Regions from separate parts of the Homo sapiens genome. Here regions 1, 2, 4, 5, 6 and 7 are each linked to region 3. The links come from fine-mapping of genetic effects on gene expression. A gene starts in region 3. Each other region holds a variant in brackets. All regions are shown on one strand. Distances are from middle to middle. Region 1 overlaps PRKCA (protein kinase C alpha). Region 2 overlaps PRKCA (protein kinase C alpha). Region 3 holds the start of PRKCA (protein kinase C alpha). Region 4 overlaps PRKCA (protein kinase C alpha). Region 5 overlaps PRKCA (protein kinase C alpha). Region 6 has its middle 15 kb from the start of CACNG5. Region 7 has its middle 25 kb from the start of APOH.

Region 1 (4,067 bases), 120 kb after region 3:
ATAATGCGTCCTCAGTCAGTGTTTGTTGAAGGGGTAAACAAACCCCATTCTGGGTTGTGTTCTTTTTTTTTTTTTTTTTTTTTTAAATATGAGACGGAGTCTTGCTCTGTCACCAGGCTGGAATACAGTGGCGCAATCTCGGCTCACTGCAGCCTCCGCCTCCTGAGTTCAAGCGATTCCCCTGCCTCAGCCTCCCAAGTAGCTGGGACTGCAGAAGTATGCCACCACGCCCGGCTAATTTTGTATTTTTAGTAGAGACGGAGTTTCACCATGTTGGCCAGGATGGTCTTGATCTCCTGACCTGGTGATCCACCTGCCTTGGCCTCCCAAAGTGCTAGGATGACAGGCGTGAACCACCACACCTGGCCAGGGGACATGTTCTTAAAGTTTATGAAGCATCAGCTTTGTCTAAGCTTTAGTCAAGAGTCAGAACTAATACAGATGGTCCCAACTTAGCATGGTTTGGCTTAAGATTTTTCAACTTCATGACGGTGTAAAAGTGATAGAAATTCAGTAGAAATTGTACTTCAAGTACCTGTACGACCATTCTGTTTTTCATTTTTCAGCACAGCATTCAGTAAATACACAAGATACTTAACATTTTATTATCAAATAGGCTTTGCATGAGATGATTTTACCCAACTGTAGGCTCATGTAAGTGTTCTGTGGACGGTTAAGGTAGGCTCGGCTACGATATGGTGTTAGGTGTATTAAATGCACGACAATACTTTCAATATATGGTGGTTTTTCGGGATGTAACCCATTCTAGGTTGAGGAGCATGGAGCATTTGTAGTCAGAGGGAAGAAAAGACATTTGGAGGATTTTGACTGGCGATTTTTATCATTTTGAGACCAGTTTTGGACTAAGAAGACAGTCAAATCAATGTTCTCTTTTGGCCTGAAGTTTTGGAATTCAGTGATGTCGTTGTCCCCTGCATTCCCCTCCTTTGTGGAATTTCAAAACCCCCTTCACATAATGAGAGAAATTAACCCTGAAGAAAGAAAGGACTGGAATTTCTACTAGCTTGTTGATAATGCATTATTGTTATGCTGTCATGGGAAACCTGTCTTCCTAGGTTCTAAATTGGTGGATGACTGTCTGGTGACGGAGTCCAAGCGTCATTGCACAATGAAGATGAAAAACGCATGTTGGATGGCTACTCCAGTGAAGTTGAAAAATGCTTGCCTGATAAAATGCTTGCCTGATGGCTACTCCAGTTGGGCACATGCATACTGCCTTCTGCTTTTGCTCAGGAGGAAGATAAGTGAAACTAAAGGATTTTGGTTGAGTAATTTAGAGAGAGAGTAAAAAGATTTTGGTGTTTGTCATGGGAGTTCACAGGCTCTTCTAATGGAACAGAGAACTGCTTTAGGGGCCAGTTTCAGGTTTTTGCCTTTCTGGAAGGAAGGGGCAGTCCCTTTTCCCTTTGACCACTTACCTCTATTGTCAGTTTGTGTAATTATGTCAGAACTCAGCCACAGCCTCTGTTTTTTTTTTTTTTTTTTTTATAGCTCTATCAAGTGATTTTCAGCTTTATAGGGAAAGATAGCTCTGAAATTTTCTTTCTTCTTTCTTCTCTTCTCTTCTCTTCTCTTTTCTTTCTTTTTTTGAGACAGAGTCTTACTCTATTATTCAGGCTGGAGTATAGTGGCACCATCTCAGCTCACTGCAGCCTCCATCTCCCAGGTTCAAGCAATTCTCCTGCCTCAGCCTCCCAGGTAGCTGGGATTACAGGCACCCGCCACCAGGCCTGGCTA[AT/A]TTTTTTTTTTTTTTTTTCTTTTAGTGGAGACTGGGTTTCATCATGTTGGCCAGGCTTGTCTCCAACTCCTGGCCTCAAGTGATCCACCCGCCTTGGCCTCCCAAAGTGTTGGGATTACAGGTGTGAACCACCATGCCTGGCCTTGAAATTTCTTTTTCTCTACTTTTTCCTTTTTACCCACTGTTTAGTTTGCTAGGGCTGCTGTGACAGAGTACCACAGACTGGGTAGCTTAAACAGCAGAAGTTTATTTTTTCACAATTCTGGTGGCTAGATGTTTAAGATCAAGGTGTCAGCAGGGGGTTGGTTTTGTCTGGAGCTTCTCTCCTTGCCTCGTCGATGCCATCTCCTCCTTGTATCTTTACGTGGTTTTCTCTCTGTCCTTGTTTGTCATAATCTCTTCTCATAAAGATCCCAGTCCTACCAGATTAGGGCCCACCTTAATGACCTCATATAACCCTCTTGCCTTTCTAAAAGGTCCTATTTCCAAATAAGGTCACATTCTGAGATACTGGGGATTGGGACTTTAACATGAGTGATTTGAGGGGAGACTAACATGAATTTTTGGGGGGTGAGGTTCAGCTCATAACACCCACTTCACTTTTTCGTAGTACATTGGCAGTTCTGTTTCAAGAGCTCAGTTAATAATTATTTGATGTGTCATGGATTAGAACATGAAACAGGAATTTTGTTTTATTCATAAAACTGTATCCCTAGCACCTAGAGCATAGCGTAAGCCCTCAATAAATATAGGTTGGATATTATTGGATGAATACATGTCATATCTGGAAGAAGGATAAAGGAATGCCCTGAAGACATGTTAGTTTCAAAATGTTCTAAAGGCCCAGAAGGGCAGTGAGGATTTTCACTGGCTTCAGGGCTCTGTGCAATAATATAGAAATAGAGAATCTCACACTGAAGCCAGTCAACAGGACCAACTTCTTTTAGCCAGTCCTGTCTTTCCAGCAGCATCATGCAATCTAGGACATAAGAGAGCCCGTGTCAAACCATTTTTATATACCGTGACACTCTTATTTTTAACACAGTGGTTGGATTATTTATAAGCAATCTTGGATTCATTCAATAACCACAGGTAGATAGTGCTCTCACCTCATTAAAGCATTATTGCAGGCCGGGCATGGTGGCTCACACCTGTAATCCTAGCGCTTTGGGAGGCTGAGGCAGGTGGATCGCCTGAGGTCAGGAGTTCGAGACCAGCCTGGCCAACATGGTGAAACCCCGTCTCTACTAAAAATAGAAAAATTAGCTGAGCATAGTGGCAGGCACCTGTAATCCTAGCTACTCGGGAGGCTGAGGCAGGAGAATCGCTTGAACCAGGGAGGTGGAGGTTGCAGTGAGCCCAGATCACGCCATTGCACTCCAGCCTGGGTGATAAAAGCGAGACCTTGTCTCAAAAAAAAAAAGTATTATTGCAGAGAAGGAGGTACTCTTAGAACTCTGGACTCTGTTAGCAAAAGCGTTGGGGATTGATAGTGATTTAATTTTATTCATGATGCTGAGAGAGTCTCACCGGAATGCAGCGAGGATTTTGCCCCTCATGTCATCAAGCTGGTAGTACTTTGTTTTATGCCCGGTTTCTTGTCTGATGCAACCTTTTATGCACCATAGTGAAAAGTTGTGCTTAACATGTTTATGATCCCATATTTGGAAATCTTGCCTTATTTGGATTTTGCAGGTTTGATAGTTTGATAATTCAGAGAGGTTGGACTCAAATTTTTATCTATAAACAAGGGATTTACTAACAATAGTTTGGAATGATATGACTAAGAAAGATGTTCATTACTTACAGATCTCTTTAGAAGCATCATTTACATACAATAATTACCTGACTCAGAAGAAAGTCCCCTAGGGAAGTCATCTGACAGTCCTGGTCACTGTCTGTGCTTTAAAGCTGGCTGTTACTGAAGCCTTTAATGCATACTGTTTTTCTTCCCAGGTAATCTGCAATAGTAATTATGGTTTAGTTGAGTGGCCTCCCCCAGTTGAGAAACACAATCATACCATGCAGTAAAAAATATTTAAAGCACACTTATAGTTCTAGAACTTTGCATGGATAACTCTAATTAGTCTGGGAGCGCTTCCCTGGAGCCGAATGTGTTTAAGAATTCAATCTTTTAAGTGCCGGTGATGTCAGTTTGGAGACAGCAGTATGTGGCTCCATTCCACCGTGAATCCTTTGCTAGCTGCAGTGTACTTTAGCTAATAGAATCAAGTGCTTGTCTTCAAGTTTTTTAAGAGCATAAAAACCCTGTTTATTAAAACAATTCTCTTTGGCACTTTGCAGCATT
Region 2 (4,067 bases), 67 kb after region 3:
ACTTAATTATGTCTTCTCATTTGCTAAATGGATACCAATTTATGAGACTATGCTCACAAACCTAAAGTGAACAGGTGAAAGACCCTCTGCAAAATAGCTGCTCAATAAACTGTTGCATGCTAATCCTAAATAAGCACTTAAGAGGTATCAGTTACAATGAATTCCCTGTGTTTATAAAATAACTTACAGGTGCAGTTCCTCTTCATAGGGAGTAACATGAATGAGTAACATCACATCACCATACTGTTCTGAGAGGTACTTGGCAGATTGGTCAATACTGTGAACTCAGAACTCCAACCGTGGGATCCCAGCCATCCATTCAGTGGCATTTCTACCAGAACATCTGTGTAAGAGATTGAAGGTTAATTTTGGCAATTCTTACCTTGTACAGAATTCTGTGCATTTTAAGTTAAATTACTGTAGGTGATTGGGGATTTTGAAAATCTAGGCTCAATTGTTGACAATTCCAGTGACCTTTGGTCTGGAGCAAATCCCTTAGCCTATATATATACACACATATATGTGTGTGTGTGTGTGTTTATCTATATGTGTGTGTATATATGTGTGTGTGTGTGTGTGTGTATATGTATATATATATATATATATATATTTTTTTTTTTTTTTTTTTTTTTTTGGAGACAGGGTCTCTGTCACCCAGGCTGGAGTGCAGTGGTGCGATCTCGACTCAAGGCAACCTCCATCTCCCAGGCTCAAGTGATCCTCCCACCTCAGCCTCCTGAGTAGCTGGGACTACAGGCATACACCACCACATCCGGCTAATTTTTGTATTTTTTTGTAGAGACGGGATTGCGCTATGTTGTCCAGGCTGGTCTCGAACTCCTGAGCTCAAGTAATCTGCCCACCCCAGCCTCCCAAAGTGCTGAGATTACAGGCATAAGCCACCATGCCTGGTCTCTTAGCCTGCATATTTCATGTTTCTCGTTCATAATATAAAGACAGAAAAGGTGCTTCCTATGGGAAGATAGATGTGGACACAATTTCACAAATTAAGTTTTATACAAATGTAAAGTACTGCAATTCATGTTGACCTCTCAGCTTAGTTGGTTTTAGAGTAAAGGGGTTAGCTAGAGGCCTGAGTCTTGCTCCCTGGCCTGGCCCAAATTACCTGACCCAGGAGACATCTCAACCTCTCTAGCTTTTAGTTTCGTAATCTGTAGATCGTGAGGGGGGTTGACTCCATGATTCCGTGAGCTTTCTTCTCAAGCATCTCATTCTAGAATATTCCATCGGTCCTTTTCTGTCACCTTCTTCCCAAGTGGTTGTGAAAGGGTGGCTTGTAGGCATTAGGCCAGAGCTGTGTGTTAGCCATAATTCAGATAATACAGCTTATAATTCAGCTTGTGTTGATCAGAAACTCTGCCTAAGGGAAGGCCCAGGTAAAACCTGTAAAGTCCTGGAGTTTCATCACAGATGATGCTATTGCAGAGCCTCCAAGATTTTGCCTCTTTTTTATGAGCTTTGGTGACTACCCCAGCCTAATGAGGTCCAAGATATCCCAGTACTTCCACGGGAGGATCATGTGAAGATTGCTGTCTGGTTCCAAAATTCCCTCCTAAAACAGCAAGGGTGGCACCTGGGGAGGAGGAGGGACCTGGGGGAGGAGGAGGGACCTGTGAGAGGGGTATCAGTGATTCTGCAGGTGATTCCTCCTCTTCCTGTCCTCTTATTAAAATTCCCTGAGGCTGACTTCAGCTAGATGTTGATCAGATTAAAGCAGTTGGTGCTGGGATGGATTAATAAGCTTGAAATTTTTTAACTTGGATGCCTTGAGGTACTTATTTCATCCCCAAGCATTTTCCATCTCTATCCCAACTAGTCCAGTAAAACCTGTGGCATTGCTGAGCAATAAGCAATGCACCTGCCCGTTTTCACTATTGGATCTGGCTCTGTCCACTCTTTTCTGGGAGAACAGAGGGGATGGGTGGCGTGATGGCCCACTGAGTGCTGGGCTTCTCCATCCTCCATCTGAGTTGGCTGCATTCCTGTCCCAGGTGTCCTCTGCCTCTGTTGAGCCCCTGCCACTGCTACCTCCAAGTGTCCTTCCTTCCCTCCACATGCAGAATGGAGCTTTCCATCCCCAAAGAACTCGAGCAGCCTGTTTGCATCACTGCCAGGAGACCTGTTTGGTACTG[C/G]CAAGCACTGCAGGTATTTCTAGCTCAGTTGTCTTATCATTAGGGTGAACATATTTATCCTCTAAACCAGGACACTTTTGAAAGTGAAGGGAGGAGAGCCATTAATAATTAAGCTGGGACAACAGTCATAAACCAGGATTGTCTGGGCAGACTCAAACATGTGGTCGCCCTACTTGTTCCCTGTACTTGATGGAAGCCTTCCTGACGGTAAGGACAGTCCTTCCACATCCCCTCAACCTCCACAGTGGCACAGACATAATTATATTGAATGAAGCGATAAATAAAGCTATTTTGATACTTTTTTTTTTTTTTTTTTTTTGAGATGGAGTCTTGCTCTGTCGCCCAGGCTGGAGTGCAGTGGCATGATCTCGGCTTACTGCAACCTCTGCCTCCCGGGTTCAAGCAATTTTCCTGCCTCAGCCTCTGGAGTAGCTGGGACTACGGGTGCACACCACCATAGCTGGCTATTTTGATAAGCTTTAATGACAGGGATGGCGAACAGTGGTTAACAGTTAGTGAGGCATTGCCAGGTGCAGTATGTGAGGTCAGCACTTTGTATAATTATTTAATCTTCACAATAGCGCTATAGATTTGATACTATTTTTTTTCTTTTCTTTTCTTTTTTTTTTTTTTTTTTTTGAGACAGGGTCTCACTCTGTCGCCCAAGATGCGTGTAGTGGTGTGATCATAGGTCACTGCAACCTGGAACTCCCAGGCTCAAGCAATCCTTCCACCTCAGACTCCCAAGTAGCTGGGACTACAGGTGCATGCCACCATGCCCGGCTAACATTTTATGTTTTGTAGAGACGGGGTCTCATTATGTTGCCCAGGCTGGTCTTGAACTCCTGGACTCAAGCGATCCACCACTGCCCATCCTATTTTTCTGTTTTTCAGAGAAGAATATTGATGCCTAGAGAAGTTAAGTTGCTTGAGAGCAGAGAGTAAGCAGCAAAGCTAGGGTTCAAACCCAGAGTGTAATCTCATAGGTGCTGTATTATACAGATAAGCTAGATGCAGGGGCAGGCTGGTTTGTAAGAGGGCATGTTGCCTGTAGCATTTCTCCTTAGTGAATCTCCGAAACAAATCACATCCTGTTTATTTCCAACAAAAGAGAACAAATTTGGGATTATATCTGATTATAGCATGCGAGTAGCAAATAAGATATGATGTATGTATTTTTGCAGTTTTTTCTTTCCAAGTTCCCCCATCTTTGGCCAAAATATCACATTTTAAACCAATGAAGAGTTAAATCTAGAGTTAATCACTTAGCATCAGCAGTGCAGCCAGAATTCTCATCTCCTGATTCTAAAACTGCCTGACCCTACCCTGGAGTCACTGATCAGGTTGAGAGGAGTTCAGAATGAAGAGAGAATTGTTTCAACCACCTGTTCTGCATGAGAGCCTTTCACCATTTTCTGTGTGTTTGTGAAATGACCATTCTGAAGTTCAGATCCACATATAAGACTCATTCAAAATGATCTTCCTCAATGGAAACCGGGGGTGAGATTTGAACCTGAGAGAGACAGTCTGCTCTGGTTGATGAACAGCATAGCTCTGGACCCAGACTGCCTGGGTTTACATCTCAGCTCTGCCACTTCTAACTTTGTGATTCAGGCAAATTATTTAACTCCCAGTTTTTTTATCTGTAACATGGGGATAATAACAGCATAAGAGCACTAGCCACACTGGATGGCTATAAGATTGAAATCAATTACTATGTGTAAAAATCTTAGAATAGGGCCTGGCATAAAGCGACACTGTGACTGTTTTATCTGTAATATATATGTTGCTTTTTAAAGGCCACTAGGTGATACATTAGAGCAGGCAGGGTGCCATCGAATGACCCAACCCTTTGTCATCTGGCAATATTGCCTAAAATCCAGACGGTGGATTTTCACCTTCAAAGTGGTTCTT
Region 3 (4,067 bases):
GTGCACAGTCCCCTCTCCCCAACTGAGCTAAGATGTGGGCTATTGATGCTTTCATGCCCAGCCCAACCATGAATCAGTTGACTTCCAGTCAATCATTCCTCCTCGTACCCACCAGGAACAACACTAACAACTGAGGCAAGAATGCAAAGCCACAACCTAAAAGAAAACAGACACATTGTTCCATCTGATCTACTGACAGCTAAGACAGTCACTCCATGGAGTACACAGGAGATTCGCAGGCTGCTGCCAGGGCTCATTCTGTTCTTGTCTTTCCTATGACTTTACTCAGGATTCCATTATCAGCAACTTCACCCTCCAGCTCTCTCCATCCTCCTATGAAAGCCTCAGGGACATAGAAATAAGCTTGTCTTTGTAAAATGTGCCAGGATCTCCGTCTTAGATAAAAGACGACTATGAGAAAAGAAATTATTTCATTCCACTATGTTCCATTTGATTTCTGCTTTCAAGCAATAAACCACCATGGCTTGAGATGCTTCTAGTGTTTCATGGAGAATTGGGACTATTTCCCCAACATGCCCTGCTCTTCATTCCTCTTTGCTTCTTCCCTTTTTGACTCCTTGGACCCGAGGGGCGACCATGAGTGGCGAAATTTCTGACCAGCTAGAATACCAGGCAGGTGCAGGCTCTTGAAGCACCAAGACTGGCTCAAGAGATTGTAAATGGATCAGTCAAGTGCATGCACCACTGACGGCCAGTCAGGAGAGCTTCCATTTGTTAAAAATATAAAGGACATTCCTATCATCAAGCATCACAATTAGGCAATCTCAAAGAAAACAATATTAGCTCTACTTGGCCTATGTTACATGCTCTAAGAAAGTATTTTAGAAAAGTTTTTTTTTTCAACATAAATTTATTGAAGGATCAAACGTGTTCTCTTTCTTGGTCTCTTTAGCTCGTAAAGTCGTTTTGGGGATTTCGTGAATCTGGCAAATAAAACAAAACACCAATGAAACGCTGAGAAATGATTATTTCCCTTATGTATTTTAGCGGCCTCCAGGCAGACCTGATAAATATTCAGCGAGTGATTAGCTGGTGCATCCCCACCTGCGTCCTTTGCATAGCCATGCCCGCTACTCTTTCACAGGCAGTTTTACTTGGTAAGTTACAAACGTACTGGCTGCACTCTGCACCTGACAGTATTGCAGTAATTAGCTTGGGATGCAAAATGATTTCTAAATTAAGGTCCTGGACTTGTAAAATCAAGAAAGCCTGATAATCAACATCGTCGCTCTGGTGGCCATTGAATAACGGGATAAATACCTAAGACAAGTCCTTTAACCATCCCACGTGGTGATAAATGCCCGACGTACAAATTAAAAGTCTCTACCACACGCAGGTGAAATAAGGTATAGGTCAAGAAGAGAAGGTAGGGGAAAGGGTCAATGCTTAATTATTTAAAAATCGCTCTCTTCCTCCTGTAGGAAGGTCTAGGGGCTAGGTCTTTTAGTGCACACGTGATGAAAGTGACATTTTGGCCAGGTGAAACCTCAAGCTGGTACAGGCAGCTAAAACACGGGCGTCGTGCCCTGGAGACACCGGGGGTCCTGAGGATGGGGAAGGGGCTCCCTGCTGCGGGTGCTGAGGGGTTAGGAGGTGAGCACCGGGCGGGAGGCTCCGGGGCAGGGGCTGCGCGTGGAGCCCACTCCCGGACGCGGGCTCCTCTCGGCCCGGCACGGGTGGCGCAGGACTCCGAGCCCGTCGACAAGAGAGAGAGCGGGAGTGGGAGAAGGAAGACCGGGAGAGGAGGAGGCCGGGCGGCAAGAGCGGAAGAAGAGGAGGAGAACTGAGGCGGAGGAGGGCGAGAGGGAGGAGAGCCGGGCGCAGGAAGGGGAGGAAAGAAAAAGGCGGCGGAGGAGCGCGGACCCGCCACTCCCGGCCTCCTCCCCCGCATCCCCACTCGGGCCGGCCCTCCCCCGGCCGCCGCCGCCGCCGCCGCCGCCGCCGCCGCCGCCGCCGCCGCCTCCCCTTGCCCAGTGTTCCCAGCACCGCAAGGCACTCGCTGCCTCCTCCGCACTCGGTCCGGTCCGCTCAGCGCCGCCGCCGCCGCACCCTCGCCGCACCCCCGCGCGCGCCCGGCCCGCGCGCCCCCGCCGCTCGTCCTCGCGGCCTCGCGCTCGGGGCATGCGCGGTGGGCGGTGCCGCTCCGGGCCGCCTCTGCCGCCGCGAGTAGGAAGCGCGAGCGCCGGGCACCGGGCTGTCAGTGAGCCTGGGGCCAGCGGGCGAGCCAGCGGCTCCGGCTCCCGCTCCCGCTCCGCGCAGCACCAGCCCGACTCTCCCCGGCCCCCGCCGCGCCCCCTCGCCGCGACCTCGGCCACCGGCCCGCGCCCCGCGCCCGGGGTCGCCCCGAGCCCGCACCTCTCCCCCGCCGCCCCCGCCCACCCGGCCCTCCGCGGCCGCAGCTCCCCGGCGGAGGCAAGAGGTGGTTGGGGGGGACCATGGCTGACGTTTTCCCGGGCAACGACTCCACGGCGTCTCAGGACGTGGCCAACCGCTTCGCCCGCAAAGGGGCGCTGAGGCAGAAGAACGTGCACGAGGTGAAGGACCACAAATTCATCGCGCGCTTCTTCAAGCAGCCCACCTTCTGCAGCCACTGCACCGACTTCATCTGGTAGGTGCCGGGCCGGGCACTCCTGCCCCGCTCCTCCCCGCCTCCGGGTCCCGGCACCCGGCGCTCCGGCGCGTCCGCCCCGGGGCTGGCTCACTCCGATAACTTGGAACCGGCGGGAGTCCGAACTCTTCGCCCGGAGTGACACGCGCGCCCGGCCCTGACACCGGCGGGCAGGACTCCCGGGACGTCGCCGTCCCGCCACACACACCCCCTGGCGCGAGAGGGAGGCTGGCCCCGTACGGTGGCGAAGGGGATCCCTCTCCGGGCCGGGCCCCTCACCTCCCCGGGCGCGCCCACCCGCACGCACCCAGCGGAGCGGCCGCTTGCCGGGGTGTGAGCCCAGGGGACAGGGGAGGAGGAGAGGCCCTAAGGGGGCAAAGGTTCCCGGAGAAACGCGCCCCGGAGTAACGGGGGAGCGGCGGCGATTGCACTGCGCGCGGTCCAAGTTGCTGGCGAGCCAGGCTGGGCGCGTTCGGGGTGGGGGGGTTGTGTTTGTGCTTCCCATCGGGCTGGACTGCGCTGGCATCTTGGGCCCCTGCCTACTGTAGGCTGCATCTACTGGGCACGGAGAGACTGACTTTTCTGAGTGAGCAGAGAGAGAGAGAGCAAACTGTTGAAAGCTTGCAGTGGGGGAGGGGGAGTTCTAGCAGGCAAATGGCACAAGGGCAGAGGGACTCATTTAAAATAGACCCTGTCGGCCAGGCGCGGTGGCTCACGCCTGTAATCCCAGCACTTTGGGAGGCCGAGGCAGGCGGATCACCTAAGGTCAGTAGTTCGAGACCAGCCTGGCAAACATGGTGAAACCCCGTCTACTAAAAATACAAAATTAGCCGGGCGTGGTGGCACACGCCTGTAATCCCAGCTACTCGGGAGGCTGAGACGGGAGACTCGCTTGAACCCGGGAGGCGGAGGCTGCAGTGAGCCGAGATCGGGCCACTGCACTCCAGCCTGGGTGAGACAGAGCGAGATTCCGTCTCAAAAAAAATGAAACAGACCCTGTCAACTCGAGATTAGACCTGTAACCCTGTTGATGAGGGCAGAGGCCTTATTTAAGAAAAATAATATAAGGGCCAGAGGTCAGAGATCAGGTAATCGCCAATGAATTCAGGCATTCTTAACTCGGAGGGTCCCTGGGGGCTTATGGAGAATCGATACATAGAAGGGCTTCAGGGGTCTCTGAACCCTGTAAAACTGAGGGAAATTGTGTTTGTGAATCTTTTTCCTGGTGAGAGAATTACAGCTTTCATCTGATCCTCAAAAGGTGTGTGACCCTTCTTCCCAGATCCCCGTCACCACACAAAAGTTTTGAAAGCTGGAACTAAAGGAGCTCTAGGTCCTCTAGTTAGAGCAGCAGTAGTTTGGTTTTTCTTTTAAGTTGCCCGACGTCCTGACTCTTCTACCTCTTCTTTGTGGTGTAGGAAGTTCCGGGCAAGACAGA
Region 4 (4,067 bases), 150 kb after region 3:
GGTGGCTTCATTTTCTCCAGAGAACTGTCTGCACCTCTGTTCCTTTCTTTTTATTTGGGTGCCTATGATGACCTCATTGAAGTCTTCATCTTTTTCTTAGCCAATGTAGCGTTTGCTAAGGAGCCAGACCTCAGATAGGAATGGAGAGCCCCAGAATCCAGGTGCAGCACAGGTGCTTCCAGAACCTTCTATGTGGTCCCTTCGGGAAAGGATCATCTGTTTTTGTGAGGCTTAACAGGAAGACAGAACTAGGGAAGAAGCAGGGTGAGGAGGGAGAAGTGCAGCTGTGTATAGCGAGAATAAGGATCTGCCGAAATTTATCTTGGGGTTTTTATTTCCTCTTGAAATGTTGTGCGTTCTGAGAACCTCGAGGAGTGTTTTTGTTGCCTGATAGGAACTGGCCCGGCTTGTTCCTATTGCACTGAAGCCTTCAGGAATGCGGCCTCTGCACCTGTGATGAAAACAACATCCAAGAAACCCACCAGTGGGTTCCAGAACTTCCTTTCTACAGTGACTGTTTGGGTCACAAAACATAACTAGACAAAAAATTAGCTGGGCGTGGTGGCGGGTGCCTGTAGTCCCAGCTACTCAGGAGGCTGAGGCAGGAGAATGGCATGAACCTGGGAGGCGGAGCATGCAGTGAGCCGAGATGGCACCACTGCACTCCAGCCTGGATGACAGAGCGAGACTCCGTCTCAAAAACAAACAAACAAAAAAACAAACAAAACACATAACTAGAAATTATGAGGTTTATAAGGGCTGGTGTCTTAACCGCAAGTGCCTGTTTGAACCCCCATTGAGCTTGTAGCATCGAGATGTGCTGTGTGTCACATTCAGCCACATTTGTACAGTTGGTGGCATTTAGGAGTCCTGCCTGGAAGGCCAAGAATATTTTTCCCCACAGTGGCTTAGGAAATGGAACTGGAGCCCTCATTCCCCTCACTTCCCACTGGCTAGGTGGTCACGGATGTGGAAATATCCCAAGCTTGAAACCACTGAAGATGGAGCTCCTGACTTGGAACAGAGGCTCTGGGGTAAGGCAGGCATTGGGGACTTGAGGGAATCCCAGGAAAAGACTGGGAACTAGAACCCATGTGCCCTCGTACAGATCCACAGTCCCCTTGCCTTGGGTCCCGTGATCCTTTTTTTCTTTTTTTTTTTCTTTTTTTGAGATAGAGTCTTGCTTTGTCACCCAGACTGGAGCGCAGTGGCTTGATCTCAGCTCACTGCAACCTCCACCTCCTGGGTTCAAGCGATTCTCCTGCCTCAGCCTCCTAAGTAGCTGAGATTACAGGCGCCCGCCACCATGCCCAGCTAATTTTTTGTGTTTTCAGTAGAAACGTGTTTCGCCATGTTGACCAGGCTGGTCTCGAACTCCTGACCTCAGGTGATCCGCCCACCTCAGCCTCCCAAAGTGCTGGGATTATAGACGTGAGCCACTGCGCCCAGCCCCCCTGATCTTTAGAACTGCCCTGCTTGCCTCCCTTTGCGCCGCCCTCGTCTGCTGTAGGTCGAATTGGTTTAAGAGCTGGGCATCCACTGGGGAGAAAAATCAGAGTAGGGCTTCCTGGGACTCTTCTGGGTTGTTCTGACTAACATTGGGTTTTACTCAAATTTTCTCTCCCTGATGTAAACACGCAGATATTTTTTAAGGTTTTAAGTGTGACCATTTAGCTTACATGCAAGTCAGAATACTTTGGGTTTTTTCAGATCCAATAGCAGGAGCATCCAGGCTTTTAAAGCTGTGGGATATGATTTCTGTGTATTTGGGCTAAATTAATTTGTTTATTGATAACCTCAGTTGTTATCATGCTAAACTGTCAGAATTGGATGTGAAGCCAGTGCTTATGTAGACTTTATTTATGTCTGGCTTCTTTCTGAAAACAATTCCTCCTCATGCCCTAGTTTCATGTTGTGATTTTAGCAGAATTAATCTGAAATGACTCAAAATTATACAATTAATTGCATTCAGCTTCAATTACAGTCTGCTGGATGAACCAAGCCCACTGCCCTCTCTGGGCAGTCACTTGCATGTGGCAGCTTTGTAGGTGCTAAGGCCCTGTGGACTCCCTGGTCAGTGTGCTGGCTTCCTGGGGAAAGCATTTTGGGGTTGACAGTCCCAGGGGCCTAATGCCTCAGTTGCAGACAAATGCAGGCTGGACCTGGGGCTGCAAAAATGCCAGGTAACAGC[A/G]AAGACCATGGAGGTGAGTGTCATGGAATTTGGGATAAATGATAAAACATTCTTTTCTTTTTTAGTAGAAAACCCAGATTTGGGTGTTTAGGGTTGGAGAAGGCAGGATCTGGGTAGGTGTATTAGTCTGTTTTCATGCTACTGATAAAGACATACCCGAAACTGGGCAATTTACAAAAGAAAGAGGTTTAATGGACTCACAGTTCCATGTGTCTGGGGAGGCCTCACAATCATGGCGGAAGGTGAAAGGCACATCCACATGGCAGCAGACAAGAGTAAGAGCCAAGCGAAACAAGTTTCCCTTTCTAAAACCATCAGATCTCATGAGACTTCTTCACTACTACGAGAACAGTCCACCATGATTCAATTAATAACTCCCACTGGCTCCCTCCCCCAATGTGTAGGAATTTACGGGAGGTACAATTCGAGATGAGATTTGGGTGGAGACACAGCTAAACCGTATCAGTAGGTTTAAGGTTTGGAAGGTGGCCAGCCCCAGGGCAGAGAAGCTTCTACTGGAGATTCCTTCCTTTCTCCTTTTTACTCTGTGCAATTGTGGGCCCTGGGGTGAGCCAGGTGAGGGCAGGTGCCTGACCACAGGATGGAAGGGCCGGCAGATGGCGGACCCAGGCAGCAGTGGAGGGAAGGTGGGGGTTGAGGGGATGCAGAGGGCTGAGAGAAACTGGGGATGGAGGGAACTGTGGTCGACGCAGCTATAGGTCTGGACTTATTTTTCCCAGATGAGGAATATCTTTAAGTCCACATAAGTGAGTCAGGGACTGCTTGTATTCAACTTGTGCTCCTTTGAAATGTTCTTATTCTCCCCACGAACTGACTTTCATTCACACCGTCTATTTGGCAATACATGACCGAATTTGGAGCCTAGTTCTTTTTGGCAAGAAAAGTTCATTAATTTTAGTCGGCTCCCCACACACTTCACAAATGTGCTTGAAAAAATAAAGGGCCTCTTATCGCCACACAGCTGCCACGAAATTGCCAGGAGTGCTGAGTGCTCACATATAGAAGACGGCCATTTATGTTGATGCTGTGAGAAGAAAAGGTCCCCCGAAGCACTTTGAACTGGAGCTGCCAGGAAAATGATGGTAAATGCAGAAGCATCAGCGAAGCCATAGGCTTTATGATCATTTATCATTCCAAATTTCTAAGGATTATCTTCATCTCTTTTATTCTGTAAACACTGATTAACTTTTAAAGGTGATGGAAGTCTGGCTGAGTCAAACTTACTCATCCATCAACTTAGTGGACTTGGAGAAAAGGCCCTGCTGTGACATTTTGATTAACTGGGATCTTACCTGTGTGGGGTTTTCTTTCCACTTAATATCTAAGAACACAAGGGTGGGAAGAAACTTCAGTGCCTGCCTGCCTTCTGCTCTTTTCCTCATCTGTAAATGAACATCTGAGAAGGGAGTGAGACGTTCATATCAGCCTGTGCAGTAGGCCTAGCTACACTCATTTATTTGCTCTCTCTTTTCTGATTTCTCTCTGTACTGGGCTGAACAATGTTCCCTCAAAATTCATGCTCGTCCAGAACCTCACAATGTCACCTTATTTGCAAATAGGGTCTCTGCAGATGTAAATAGTTAAGGTGGTGGTAGATTAGGGTAGACACTAAATCCATTGACTGTTGTTCTCGTAAGAAGGCCAGGTGAAGACACAGAGACACACAGGAGGAAGGCCACGAGATACTGGAGGCAGAGATTGGAACGATGCATCTACAAACCGAGGAATGCCAAGATTTGCCAGGAGCCACCAGGAACTAGGAGTGAAAGATGAGGAACAGATTCTTTCTCAGAGCTTCCAGAAGGAACCAGCCCCATCAATGCCTTGATTCCAGACTTTTGTCCTCCAGTAGCAA
Region 5 (4,067 bases), 510 kb after region 3:
CTGGGCTATTTGTACTTTTTTATAGAGAACTTTAATAATAATTCTTTAAAAATGAGTTTTTAGAACAAAGCAACTGACGATTTCCTAAGATTCCAATGCCCTGGAGCTTGTAGGAGGACTTAGCCTGGGTCAGCTGGAGCACCCCCGACCTGATCTCCCACTGCCAGATTTTCCCATGCTCCTAGGGTATGGAGTCCACGTGGGAATGACTGCAAGTTCAGGTGGAACTTGGCCGACTGATGCTCTGCGAGTTTTTAATAGACACTGGGGACAACTGCTTAAGGTTTAGAAACTTCCAAACCACAGGAAAGACATTTTTAGTGTCCCCCATCCAGAGGCAGCCCTGGAATAGGATTCCCAGGGGTTTCTGGGACCCCTTTCCTTGCTCCGTGAGGCTCTGTGGCCATCTTTTGGCAGGAGGAGGATGCTTCCTTGGCTCTGTGCCCAGACCCGCCTGGTCCCCAGGTCTCTCACCTTGGGTGAAGATTCAGAGATGCCCTGTAAGGATTTTGCCCACTGGGCAACTCAGAAATACTTCGATCTCCCAAGATATAAGAGGCAGCAGCAAACGTGCCTATTGACGTCTGTTTCATAGTTACCACTTACGCGAGTAGACAGAACTCGGCTTTTCAGAAAATAGGTGTCAAGTCCACTTTATAAGAACCTTTTTTTCTAAAATAAGATAAAAGGTGGCTTTGCATTTTCTGATTAAACGACTGTGTCTTTGTCACCTCTGCTTAACTTTAGGAGTATCCATTCCTGTGATTGTAGACTTTTGTTGATATTCTTCCTGGAAGAATATCATTCTTTTCTTGAAGGGTTGGTTTACTAGAATATTCAAAATCAATCATGAAGGCAGTTACTATTTTGAGTCTAAAGGTTTTCTAAAAATTAACCTCACATCCCTTCTGTTAGGGTCTTTCAGAATATCTTTTATAAACAGAAGCATTTGAAGTCATTGCTTTTGCTACATGATTTGTGTGTGTGAAGGACATACCACGTTTAAATCATTAATTGAAAAACATCATATAAGCCCCAACTTTGTTTGGAGGAAGAGACGGAGGTTGAGGTTTTTCCTTCTGTATAAGCACCTACTGACAAAATGTAGAGGCCATTCAACCGTCAAACACCATTTGGTTATATCGCAGAGGAGACGGATGTGTAAATTACTGCATTGCTTTTTTTTTCAGTTTGTATAACCTCTAATCTCCGTTTGCATGATACGCTTTGTTAGAAACATTAATTGTAGTTTGGAAGCAAGTGTGTATGAATAAAGATAATGATCATTCCTTTGTGTAGTTGGCCTTATTTACATCCCTTTGCGGTATGGCAATTATTTTTCCTCCAGTGTTCAAAAAATAGCATTTGACTTCAGACACACTCCGCAGAACACTTTCATCTCTTCACCTGTTTTTCAGGCATGACCCTCCATTTATAGTGGCATTTTTTTTTTTTTTTTTTTTTTTTTTTTACTTAAAAAATATATCTTGCTTTGAATCAAAGCCCAGACAGTGACTGGGATGGCGTTCTGGCAGGTCCTGCGTTCATTCATTCATGCACTGTTCACAGAGCCCCTGCTTAGGGCCAGGAGTTGTGTCAGGCCCTGGAGAAGAAGAGGCTGGCATGGCCCCTGCCTGCACGGAGCTTACAGTCTT[C/G]TGCCCCAAACTGCAAGGGATGCCCAGCAACTGATGACATCATCTAAGGCTGGATGGTGCCCTTCCCCTGGAAGGAACGATTCCAGAATGAATTCTGCTCAAGTCTGGAGATGTTTTCTCCAAAAATAGGTATTTTTCACACATCCCGTTGGCCACACTGTGGATGCAGCTTCAGGACCGTCCCCACTCTGAGTGTCAGCCGCCTCGTTCTGCATTTATTCACGGTTGAAAAATTGGGGGAAATGTTCAAATGTGGAACATTCAAAAATACCCAGCACTTAACAACTCAACGCAATAGAGGGAATTGTCCTCAAAAAGAATTAAAACAGGCTGGGTATGGTGGCTGATGCCCATAATCCCAGCACTTTGGGAGGCCAAGGTGGGAGGATCACTTGAGGCCGGGAGGTCAATGCTGCAGTGAGCTACGATTGCACCACTGCACTGTAGCCTGGGTGACAGAAGGAGACCTTGTCTCTTAAAAAAAAAAATCAACAACAAACACCAAAGCCAAGATCCAACCTTGGTAAAGTCAATCTTTGCTGATTTCCTCACCTCCTTTTGGGGAATGCTCTCCCCTCGTGCTCATGGCTTCAACCCACTGCTGCCACCCTCCCTCCCATAGCCCCCTAATCCTGCAGCCGCCCAGCCCAGCCTGTTCCTCCCAGCACACTCTGCATCCACACACATGCCTCCCTGCGTTCTCTTCCCTCTGGGCCTTGCTCCCAGCCAGATTACTCGAGTGTCAGCATCCTCTCAGTGGATTTTTCCCTCCCTAAGATGCCGCGGTCACACTCAACCTCCTGGAAGTGAAGGCTCTTTCAGCTGCCAATGCGAGGGCTGGCGGGGAAGCTATTTTGAAGAAAAACAAAGGGCAATTTTCAGGTCTTCAGAGCAATGTGGTCTCTGCCCCACTGGGCTGGCCCTGACCTTCACTCCGGGCTGGTTGACCTCACATACGTGTGTAGCTGTGGCTATTCGTCACGTTACGTTGCCCAGCAGAGTAGCTTACCATGGCCATTGAGCATGCCCTCTGCTTCCGCCAGTGTGCTGTTTTATTTCATTTTTGCTGCAATGCGGAATGAAGCAGAGTGGGCCACCAAGCAGCATCCTCACAGGCAGCTGGTGACCCGAGGAACTGAGTAGCTCCACCCAAGTTTACCCCTGCAGGGAGGTCTCGGGTGTATCCAATATGGCTGGTCCTCCCGGCCCCACAGAGGCAGCAGGGACAACCTGAGCACCAGGCAGTGGACAATTGCTCTTCCAGGGGCACTGTGCGCCACCCAAAGTGGATGCTCAAAAACGAGTCCTTCTGTCCAGTACTGGCCTCCCTGTCACATGCCCACCATGCCCATCAAGTTCATGAGCAGGCACTGTTGGGGCTACTCTAAGTCAGGGTTCTCGGCCAGAGGCCATGTAGCCACCCACGGGGCACTTGGCAATGCCTGGAGACTGTTTTGGTTATCATAACTAGAAGGAAGTTGCATTGGCATCGAGTGGGTAGAGGCCAGGGGCGCTGCTAAGCATCCTGCCATGCACAGGATACCCCCAGCCCTCAACAAGGTGTCATCCCACCCAAATGTCGGCGCTGCTGCTGTTACAAACCCTATTCTAAAACACACTCCGAGTTCCCCTTCTCTCCATCTCCCCTGTTCTTTCTCTCTGGCCTCCTTGACCCTCATGGCCCTCTCTGCTCAGCAGCCAGCAGGACCTTGCCTGAGCAGGCCCCTTCCCTGTTGAAAGCCCTCTGTGGCTCCCATCACCCAGCCTTCCTCATGGCCTTTCATCCTCACATGCCCAGCTCTGGGACCAAGGATTCAATGGTTGGGGAGAGTGAGTTCTCTCTCTCTCTGTCTCTGTCTCTCTCTCTCTCTCTCTCTCTCTCTCTGTGTGTGTGTGTGTGTGTGTGTATACGCACACCCTTTCCCATGAGAATAGAAGCTCTAAGAGGAGCCGGCTTGTCCATCCTGTTTGCTGCTACATCCCAGTGCCTAGAGCAGAGCCTGGTAGATAATAGGAGCTCAAAATGTTCATTGAATGACTGAGTCAATTAATCGTTCCCAAAACTGCTCTGAGCCTAGCAACGTGTTCCAGACACCCTTACTGGGCCATGGGATTTGCCCTGGAGGTGTTCACACACTAATGAAGTAGATAAGATATACAAAAAAGAACTAATTAAAGATCATCTCTCAAACTCATGATGAGCTTCAGCCTAGGAAACACCAGTTCTCAACCTCTGTCCTTCAGCCCAGAATCTAGAGGCGATGGCTGCCTATGGTTACACTTGAGTGATTATTTAACTCCCTGAGCTTCCCCCCTGCCCCTGGCTTATTGTGTGCTCTGGGGATGAAATTATGGTTCAGCTAAAATGCTAATGCACACGGGCAAAGGCCAAGGCCATCTATTTTCACACTC
Region 6 (4,067 bases), 520 kb after region 3:
CAGATGCATATGCCAAATCTTGAACTTTCTAGACACCAGAATTATAAGCCAAATTGCTTCTTTATAAACTACTCAGTCTCAGGTGTTCTGTTATAGCAACACAAAATGGATAAAGACAGAAAACTGGTACCAAGAGTGGGGTGTTGCTATAAAGATACCTGAAAATGTGGAAGTGGCTTTTGGAACAGGATAATGAGCAGAGGTTAGAAGAGTTTGAAGGAACAGGCATTAAAGAGATTGCATTGCTTGGAGTGGAGCATTAAGGACAATTCTGGTGAGGGCTTAGAAGATAAGCTGGAACTTCTAAGAGACTGGTTAAGTGTTTATGACCAGAATGCCAATAGAAACGTGGACAGTAAAGGCCATGATAATGAGGTGTCAGATGGAAATGATGATGACACCAATGCTTACCACTTAGGCTCTTTGGAGTGGAGGCATGAGTCGAACCTGGGGCTGCTTGAGCAGGAAGCAGTCACAAAGCAGTGCAGGGCTGGGGCATCCATGTCCACTTGGTACTAGTTCTGCAGGCCAGGTGTGCAGAAACCAAGAGTGGTAGAAGTGTGGTGGCTTCCACCTAGATTTCACAGATATATCAAAATGCCTGGGAGCCCAGGGAGAAACCTGCCACCACAGACAGTTCTCACTGAGGCAATGCCTAGTGTGGAGCAGGGTCACCATTGGGACCCCAGAACTATAGAGCCATTGGCAGCATACAACATCCATCTGGCAAAACCACAGGCACCCAACTGCAACCCATGGAAGTAGCCACATGGGCTGCACCCAACAAAGACATGGCAGCATACTAGACATAAAGGCCTGAGGCCTTTGCAAGCCCAGCCCTGGAACCAGCGCCTCCAGGTTGTGGGACATAGAGACAAAGGAGATTATTATGAAGCTTTAAGATTTAATGTTTGGCCAGGTGTGGTGGCTCATGCCTGTAATCCCAGCACTTTGGGAGGCTGAGGCGGGCGGATCATGAGGTCAGGAGATCGAGACCATCCTGGCTAACATGGTGAAACCTCGTCTCTACTAAAAATACAAAAAATTAGCCGGGTGTGGTGGCGGGCACCTGTAGTCCCAGCTACTCAGGAGGCTGAGGCAGGAGAATGGTGTGAACCCAAGAGGCGGAGCTTTCAGTGAGCTGAGATGGCACCACTGCACTCCAGTCTGGGTAACAGAGTGAGACTGTCTCAAAAAAAAAAAAAAAAGATTTAATGTCTGCCCTGCTGTGTTTCAGACTTGTGTGGGGCCTGTTACTCTTTTCTATTGGCCTATTTGTCTCTTTTGGGACGGGAATATTTACCAAATGTCTGCGCCACTGTTTTGTCTTGGAAGCAGATAACTTGCTTTTTATTTTACAGGCTCATAGCTGGAAGGAGCTTGCCTTAGGTCTCAGATGAGACTTTGGACTTTTAAGTTGATGCTGAAACAAGTCAAGACTTTGAAGCCTATTGGGATGCACTGATTGTATTTTTCATGGGAAAAGGACATGAGTTTCATGGGGCCAGGGGCAGAATGCTGTGGTCTGGATGTAGTTTGTCCTCACCAAAACTCATGTTGAAAGTTGATCTCCAGTGTGGCAGCGTTTGAGAATTGGGAGCCAGTGCGAGGTGTTTGGGTCATGGGGCAGATCCCTCATGAATGGCATGGTGCTCTTCTCAAAGTAGGGAGTGAGTTCTCTCAGGAATAGATTAGTTCCCTCCTGAGCGGGCTGTGTGAAAGCCAGGATGCCCCTCGGGTTTTGCCCCTTTTCAGGTGTCTGCTTCCCCTTTGACGTTCTGCCATGTGGTGACGCGGCACAAAAGCCCTCACTGAAACCAGGGCCATGGCCTTGAACTTCTCAGCCTGCAGAACAATAAGCTAAAGAAACCTCTTTTCTTTATAAATCACCCAGCCTCAGGCATTCTGTTACAGCAATATTAAACAAACTACAACACATCCCTTTTCCGCAAGAGTCAACAAAATTGCTGTTGTTGATTCTCAAACTTGGCTTTGCATTTTCTAACAGCCAATAAAAGTGGGAACCATGGTCACTTATGTGATTGTCATTACTGGAAAAGAGGAAGCATATGTGTTCCTTTGGGAAATAAAGCTTTTCCTAGCACTGAATCCAAAAGGAATTTCTTGAGTATAATTTTATTACCTAGAAAAGACACCAAGCAATATCAGAAATGATGTCCTCAACAACATTTTGAAGTTTTGTTGAAACAATAAATGCACTATCAAATTTCATAAAGCCTTTTTTTAGTGTTCTTCGTCAAGTTTGGGGCATATTAAAATACAACTTCATGAAGGTGACCGACCAAGAAACTCAACCCAAGTCTCCAGGTAAATAACCAATTATCTAGTCCAACTTGGTCCAAAAAAAGAATTTAGAATTCCTGGAGGAAAAGAACAATGAAATACCATGTTTTTATCTGTTAACTTGGCAGAAAATATGCTTTCTTGAAAGATTAAATCCCAATTTTGGCAAGAATTGGGAAAGTCTGCCCTCTCATGCCCTGTGGGTGGGAATATAAATTGGTAC[A/G]ATCTTTTTTAGAGGGCAATTTGGCACTAAGTAACAAGAGTCTTAAAAATGTGCTTACACACAGCAATTCTGCTTTGGGGGATCTTTTTCCTCTAAAGAAATAACCAAAAATGCACCAAAGACTTAGGTACGAGATGTTTGTTTTGCTCCGCCTCTTTGGGTGGCAGTAAACACAGATGGACCCAACCAGGGGCTGGCGCTGGAAATCTCTGGAGCCAAGGCAGTTCTGGGCTGGAAATCTCTAGAGCCAAGGCAGCTCTGGGAGATGGATTTTTTTTCTCTCACTCATGTAAGCTCCTCAGCCTCTTTCTCTTTTTGGAACTTTTTATTTTGGAATAATTTAAGACTCAAAATAATTTGCCAAAATAGTTCCCCTGTACCCTTCGCCCAGCTTCTTCAATGATAACACCTTACTTAACATTAGTACATTATTAAAACCAGAAAAGGGACACAGTAGAATTTTTTTTTTTTTGAGACGGAGTCTCGCCCTGTCACCCACCAGGCTGGAGTGCAGCAGTGCGATCTCGGCTCACTGTAACCTCTGCCTCCTGGGTTCAAGCAATTCTCCTGCCTCAGCCTCCGGAGTAGCTGGGATTACAGGAGAGCACCATCATGCCTGACTAACTTTTTTGTATTTCTTTTTTTTTTTTTAAATAGAGATGGGGTTAGAATACTCTTAACTAAACTATAGGCCTTATTTGAATTTCACCAGGTTTTACATACACAATACACTCATTATGTGTGTGTGTGTGTGTGTGTGTGTGTGACTATGAAATCATATGTATAGATTCATGTAACCACCACCATAATCAAGATCCAGAACTCTTCTATCCAGAAAGAAATTCACCGATGCTACCCCTTTGTCATCTTGCCCCACCCCCCACCGTAGCCCCTGGCAACCACAGCTCTGTTCCCCATCACTGTAATTTTGTCATTTCAGGAGTGTGATATAAATGGAAGCACACAGGATATAACCTTTAACCTCCTGGTGCATTTCTTCCTCCCCAGCCTGCATTTTCTCAAAAGGTCAACCGACCACAACTTCTTCTGGCCCCTCCTTAGCCTCTGATCATGCTTTTCACATCAGCGTCCATTGATGAGTGGGTCTCACCTGGTACTTTTGCCCTGAGAGAGGGAATCCTATGGCCCGGTGCATGTGTGGGTCCGGCCATGTCATCGGTCACTGACAAGTTGGCTGGATTTACTGTCAGGGGTCAGGCTCCCATGTCTGGTCCATTCATCTGTGGCGGAGCGGAGCAAGCTGTTTGACACAAAACAGGGCCACCTTGCCCATCCCGTCATCAAAGAGATGAACAAAGGGAGATCCCTTCTGAGAAGGGCTCTGCTAGGCGGATGCTTTAACTGCTATATCTACTTCACAGGTCATTGGAAAGAGCCTAAATTCTTGCTAATAGAACTCCAGTTTGGGGCTGATTTATGATAACCATGCCCTCCCTGGATCCTCCAGGGCCCCAGGGCATGGATGCTCTTGGGCATAAGCCCGTCATGGGAATTCCATTTTCCTTACCAGTGGCTGGTT
Region 7 (4,063 bases), 48 kb before region 3:
AATCACTTGAACCCAAGAGACGGAGATTGCAGTGAGTAGAGGTCATGCCACTGCACTCCAGACTGGGAAACAAGAGTGAGACTCTGTCTCAAAAAAGAAAAAAAGAAAAAAGAAAAGTATTTCTACAGTACAATATGTAAATAGTGAGAGAGAAGTTACCTTCTCACTGGTGATCACCTTGGTTCTTGCCCTCAAAGTCAATCACGGTTGCCACTCTTTTTTTTTTTTTTTTGAGACGGAGTCTCGCTCTGTCACCCAGGCTGGAGTGCAGTGGCACAATCTCGGCTCACTGCAAGCTCCGCCTCCTGGGTTCACGCCATTCTCCGGCCTCAGCCTCCCGAGTAGCTGGGACTACAGGCACCCGCCACCACGCCTGGCTAATTTTTTTGTATTTTTAGTAGAGAGGGGTTTCACCTTGTTAGCCAGGATGGTCTCGATCTCCTGACCTCATGATCCGCCCACCTCAGCCTCCCAAAGTGCTGGGATGACAGGTGTGAGCCACCACACCCGGCCAACCACTTTCTTGAGTATCCTTGGTAAACCAAAAAGTATCTGAGTCAAATCTCAACAAATTTAGAAAGTTTATTTTTGCCAAGGTTAAGGATGCAACTGACACAGCCTCAGAGGTCCTGATGACATGTGCCCAAGGTGGTCAGCAGGGGATGGGGTTGGGGGTGCAGCTTGCTTTTATACATTTTAGGGAGACACAATACATCAATCAATACATGTAAGATTAACATTGGTTTGATCTGGAAGGGTGGGACAAGTTGAAGCAGTGGCAGATTAGGGGGTGCTTCCAGGTCATAGGTAGATTTAATTATACTGTGATTAAGATAAGGGATTGTGAAGCCGGGCATGATGGCTCGTGCCTGTAATCCCAACACCTTGGGAGGCCGAGGCAGGTGGATCACCTGAGATCAGGAGTTCAAGACCAACATGGCCAACATGGCAAAACCCTGTCTCTACTAAAAGATACAAAAATTAGCCAGGCATGGTGATGGGCGCCTGTAATCCCAGCTACTTCAGAGGCTGAGGCAGCAGAATCGCTTGAACCCAGGAGGCGGAGGTTGCAGTAAGCCGAGATTGCGCCACTACACTCCAGCCTGGGTGACAGAGCAAGATTACGTCTCAAAAAGAAAAAAAAGATAAAGGGTTGTGGAGACCAAAGTTTTATCCTGCAGATGAAGCCTCCAAGTAGCAGTAACAGGCTTCAGTGAGACTAGATTGTAAATGTTTCATATCAGACTTAAAAGTCTGCATTGATGTTAATGCTGGAGGGGTATAATGAGGCATATCTGACCCCCACTTCCCCATCATGGCCTGAACAAGTCTTTCAGGCTAAATTTTAGGTGTCCTGGCCAAGGAGGAAGTCCATTCCTATGGTTGTGGGGAGGCCTTCAAAATTTTATTTTTGATTAAACCTTCTAGAAATATCCTATGCATTATGAACATTTTTATACAAATTTCAGCATATTACACATGTTGTTACTTTTTTTCTCTCTCTCTCTTTGAGATAGTCTTGCTCTGTTGCCGAGGCTGGAGTGCAGTGGCATGATCTTGACTCACTGAAACCTCTGCCTCCTGGGTTCAAGTGATTCTCCTGCATCAACCTCCAGGGTAGTTGAGACTACAGGCGCATGCACCATGACTGGCTAATTTTTGTATTTCTGGTGGAGACGGGGTTTTGCCATGTTGGTGCCAAGCC[G/A]GTCTCGAACTCCTGACCTCAGATTATTCGCCCCCCTTGGCCTCCCAAAGTGCTGGAACTACAGGTGTGAGCCACCACACCCTACCGATACACATTGTTCTTGATCATGTTTATTTCACTTAACAATGTTTTGGTGCCAGGTGTGGTGGCTCATGCCTGTAATCCCAGCACTTTGGGAGGCTGAGGCGGGCAGATCACCTGAAGTCAGGAGTTCGAGACCAGCCTAGCCAACATGGCGAAACTCTGTCTCTACCAAAAATACAAAAATTACCCGGGTGTGGTGGCATGCATCTGTAGTCCCAGCTACTTGGGAGGCTGAGCCAGGAGAATCACTTGAACCAGGGTGGCGGAGGATGCAGTGAGCCAAGATCACACCAGTGCACTCCAGCCTGGGTGACAGAGTGAGACTCTATCTAAAACAAAACAAAACAAAACAAAACAAAATATATATATATACACATATATATGTGTGTGTGTGTGTGTGTGTGTGTGTGTGTGTGTGTGTCTTGGTGATCATTTCATATCTGTAAATATAGATTTGACTTTTTTTTCAAACAACAACATGCTATACTATATCCATTGTAGGAATATGTCACAATTTATTTAACTGGTACCCTACTCATGGATGTTTAGCTTGTTTCCAATCTTCTGCTATTACCAACAGTACTGCTAGGAATATTTTTATATACATTTCTTTGTGCACATGTATAAATATATCCAAAAGATGAATTCATAAAAGTGAAATTGGTACTCCAAGGGTATGTATATTTTTCTTCTTAATATATATTCTCAAATTATCTCCTATTGGAATTTGGCAGAGATTCTGGAATTGCTTTTCATCGAGGTTGTAACACCCACCACCAACATAGGCAACACTGGCTATTTATCTCATAATGCCTCTGTGGATGTTTCCTTCAAAGAACACCAGATGGCAGAACAGACCCTAATACGTTTGCCTTGGGTAACAGGGAACTTCCGGACTTGAAGCCTCATTTTGGTTATGTAGACTGAACAAATAAAGTTGTAGAACCAGTTGTACATTAATAAATCTCTATAGATAGAAATGTATCAATTCCTCAGTAATATCATCAGTAATAGCAGATGGTAGCCTTTGCCTTTTTTCCTGTCTACCTGAAAAAAACACTAAAAAGATCCTCATCTTTCGCTCTGTAATTCTTCCCCATTACACAAACATTACTTTTTCTCCAGCTGAATAATATAGAGAACGTGCGTTAGCAATAATAATTCATGGAGTTTCATTTATGTGTGAAAGTGACTTATTTAGTTCATGTTGTTACAACAAGGAAATGTATGAGCATATGTATGTCACATAAGAATATGTCTTTAAGCAAATAGAAATGAATAATTAAAGTTGATGCCTTTACTATAAGGCTTTCATTTGTCAGAACACCAGCAAACCAATTTCACAGCAGGAAAACATTTTTTTTTTCTTTCCTGGAGAGTATGTCATCTGAGCAGAACAAATTCAATTAGCGTTGTACCTGCTTTGCAACTTATGAGAATGCTTTTATGCCTCTGGGTAGCTGCTCTCAACCCACAGCCCACAGCCCACATATACCCAATAGAGAAGGTACTCATGAACTTGTATATGCTCTTCCGTAAAACTCTTTTCAGTCTTCAGGATGTAGTACTTTTTAAATTAATCCTTCATTGCCCCAGAAGATAAACCGGTGGGAAGTTAATGAAATTGGCGTCCTAAGCTACCTGCTCAGGATCAAAATTTGCTACCTACTACAGATCTTATTATTGTCCTTCTTGAGAAATGACAGATGTCTTATTTTAAAGGTTCTAAGATAAGATGTACATAATTTTAGGGGCAGTATCATCTAGTCGCTGTAGTTCCTTGGAACACTACAAGTCCTTAAGCTAAACAGGAAGAGACTCTGCCACAAAGAAGGCAACATTGAGATTAATGAAGATTTATTGGCTAGGCGCGGTGGCTCACGCCTGTAATCCCAGCATTTTTGGAGGCCAAGGTGTGTGGATCACTTGAGACCAGGAGTTTGAGACCAGCCTGGCCAACGTGACTTAATCCCGTCTCTACTAAAAACACACACAAAATTAGCCGGGCATGGTGGCAGGCACCTGTAATCCCAGCTACTCCGGAGGCTGAGGCAGGAGGATTGCTTGAACCTGGGAGGCAGTGGTTGCAGTGAACCAAGATCATGCCACTTCACTCCAGCCTGAGTGACAAAGCGAGACTCCATCTAAAAAAAAAAAGAAAAAGAAAAAAAAAAGATTTATTAAGTACTAGATCTTTCCCAACTGCCATATCACGTTACAACATTTTATCAGGCAAAAGTTATCGTGCCCCTGTTTCAGATTAGGAAACTGTGG

What was found. PIP is the estimated chance that this variant, and not a neighbour inherited with it, causes the effect.
Region 1: its variant is fine-mapped to the expression of PRKCA in whole blood (INTERVAL, PIP 0.97).
Region 2: its variant is fine-mapped to the expression of PRKCA in whole blood (INTERVAL, PIP above 0.99).
Region 4: its variant is fine-mapped to the expression of PRKCA in whole blood (TOPMed, PIP 0.98).
Region 5: its variant is fine-mapped to the expression of PRKCA in blood mononuclear cells (TOPMed, PIP above 0.99). The same link has a PIP of 0.9 or more in anterior cingulate cortex, breast, cerebral cortex, tibial nerve, visceral fat and whole blood.
Region 6: its variant is fine-mapped to the expression of PRKCA in T cells (TOPMed, PIP above 0.99). The same link has a PIP of 0.9 or more in sigmoid colon.
Region 7: its variant is fine-mapped to the expression of PRKCA in whole blood (TOPMed, PIP 0.98).

Annotation. Positions count from the first base shown.
Region 1 is chr17:66,419,941-66,424,007 of GRCh38, forward strand. The region is part of intron 2 of PRKCA (protein kinase C alpha); the gene reads left to right. Among named protein-coding and RNA genes, the nearest start is that of PRKCA-AS1, 5.1 kb to the left of the region's middle. The variant AT/A (reference allele first, on the strand shown) is at 1,759.
Region 2 is chr17:66,367,778-66,371,844 of GRCh38, forward strand. All of the region lies in intron 2 of PRKCA (protein kinase C alpha), which reads left to right. Among named protein-coding and RNA genes, the nearest start is that of PRKCA-AS1, 47 kb to the right of the region's middle. The variant C/G (reference allele first, on the strand shown) is at 2,154.
Region 3 is chr17:66,300,396-66,304,462 of GRCh38, forward strand. PRKCA (protein kinase C alpha) reads left to right here and starts at 2,218. Exons shown (of 17, transcript NM_002737.3): 1 at 2,218-2,629. The coding sequence starts at 2,457. RefSeq lists an enhancer at 3,012-3,513.
Region 4 is chr17:66,452,167-66,456,233 of GRCh38, forward strand. All of the region lies in intron 2 of PRKCA (protein kinase C alpha), which reads left to right. Among named protein-coding and RNA genes, the nearest start is that of PRKCA-AS1, 37 kb to the left of the region's middle. The variant A/G (reference allele first, on the strand shown) is at 2,192.
Region 5 is chr17:66,809,455-66,813,521 of GRCh38, forward strand. PRKCA (protein kinase C alpha) reads left to right here. Exons shown (of 17, transcript NM_002737.3): 17 at 1-1,289. Among named protein-coding and RNA genes, the nearest start is that of CACNG5, 24 kb to the right of the region's middle. The variant C/G (reference allele first, on the strand shown) is at 1,656.
Region 6 is chr17:66,817,820-66,821,886 of GRCh38, forward strand. No RefSeq gene overlaps it. Among named protein-coding and RNA genes, the nearest start is that of CACNG5, 15 kb to the right of the region's middle. The variant A/G (reference allele first, on the strand shown) is at 2,528.
Region 7 is chr17:66,252,595-66,256,657 of GRCh38, forward strand. No RefSeq gene overlaps it. Among named protein-coding and RNA genes, the nearest start is that of APOH, 25 kb to the left of the region's middle. The variant G/A (reference allele first, on the strand shown) is at 1,706.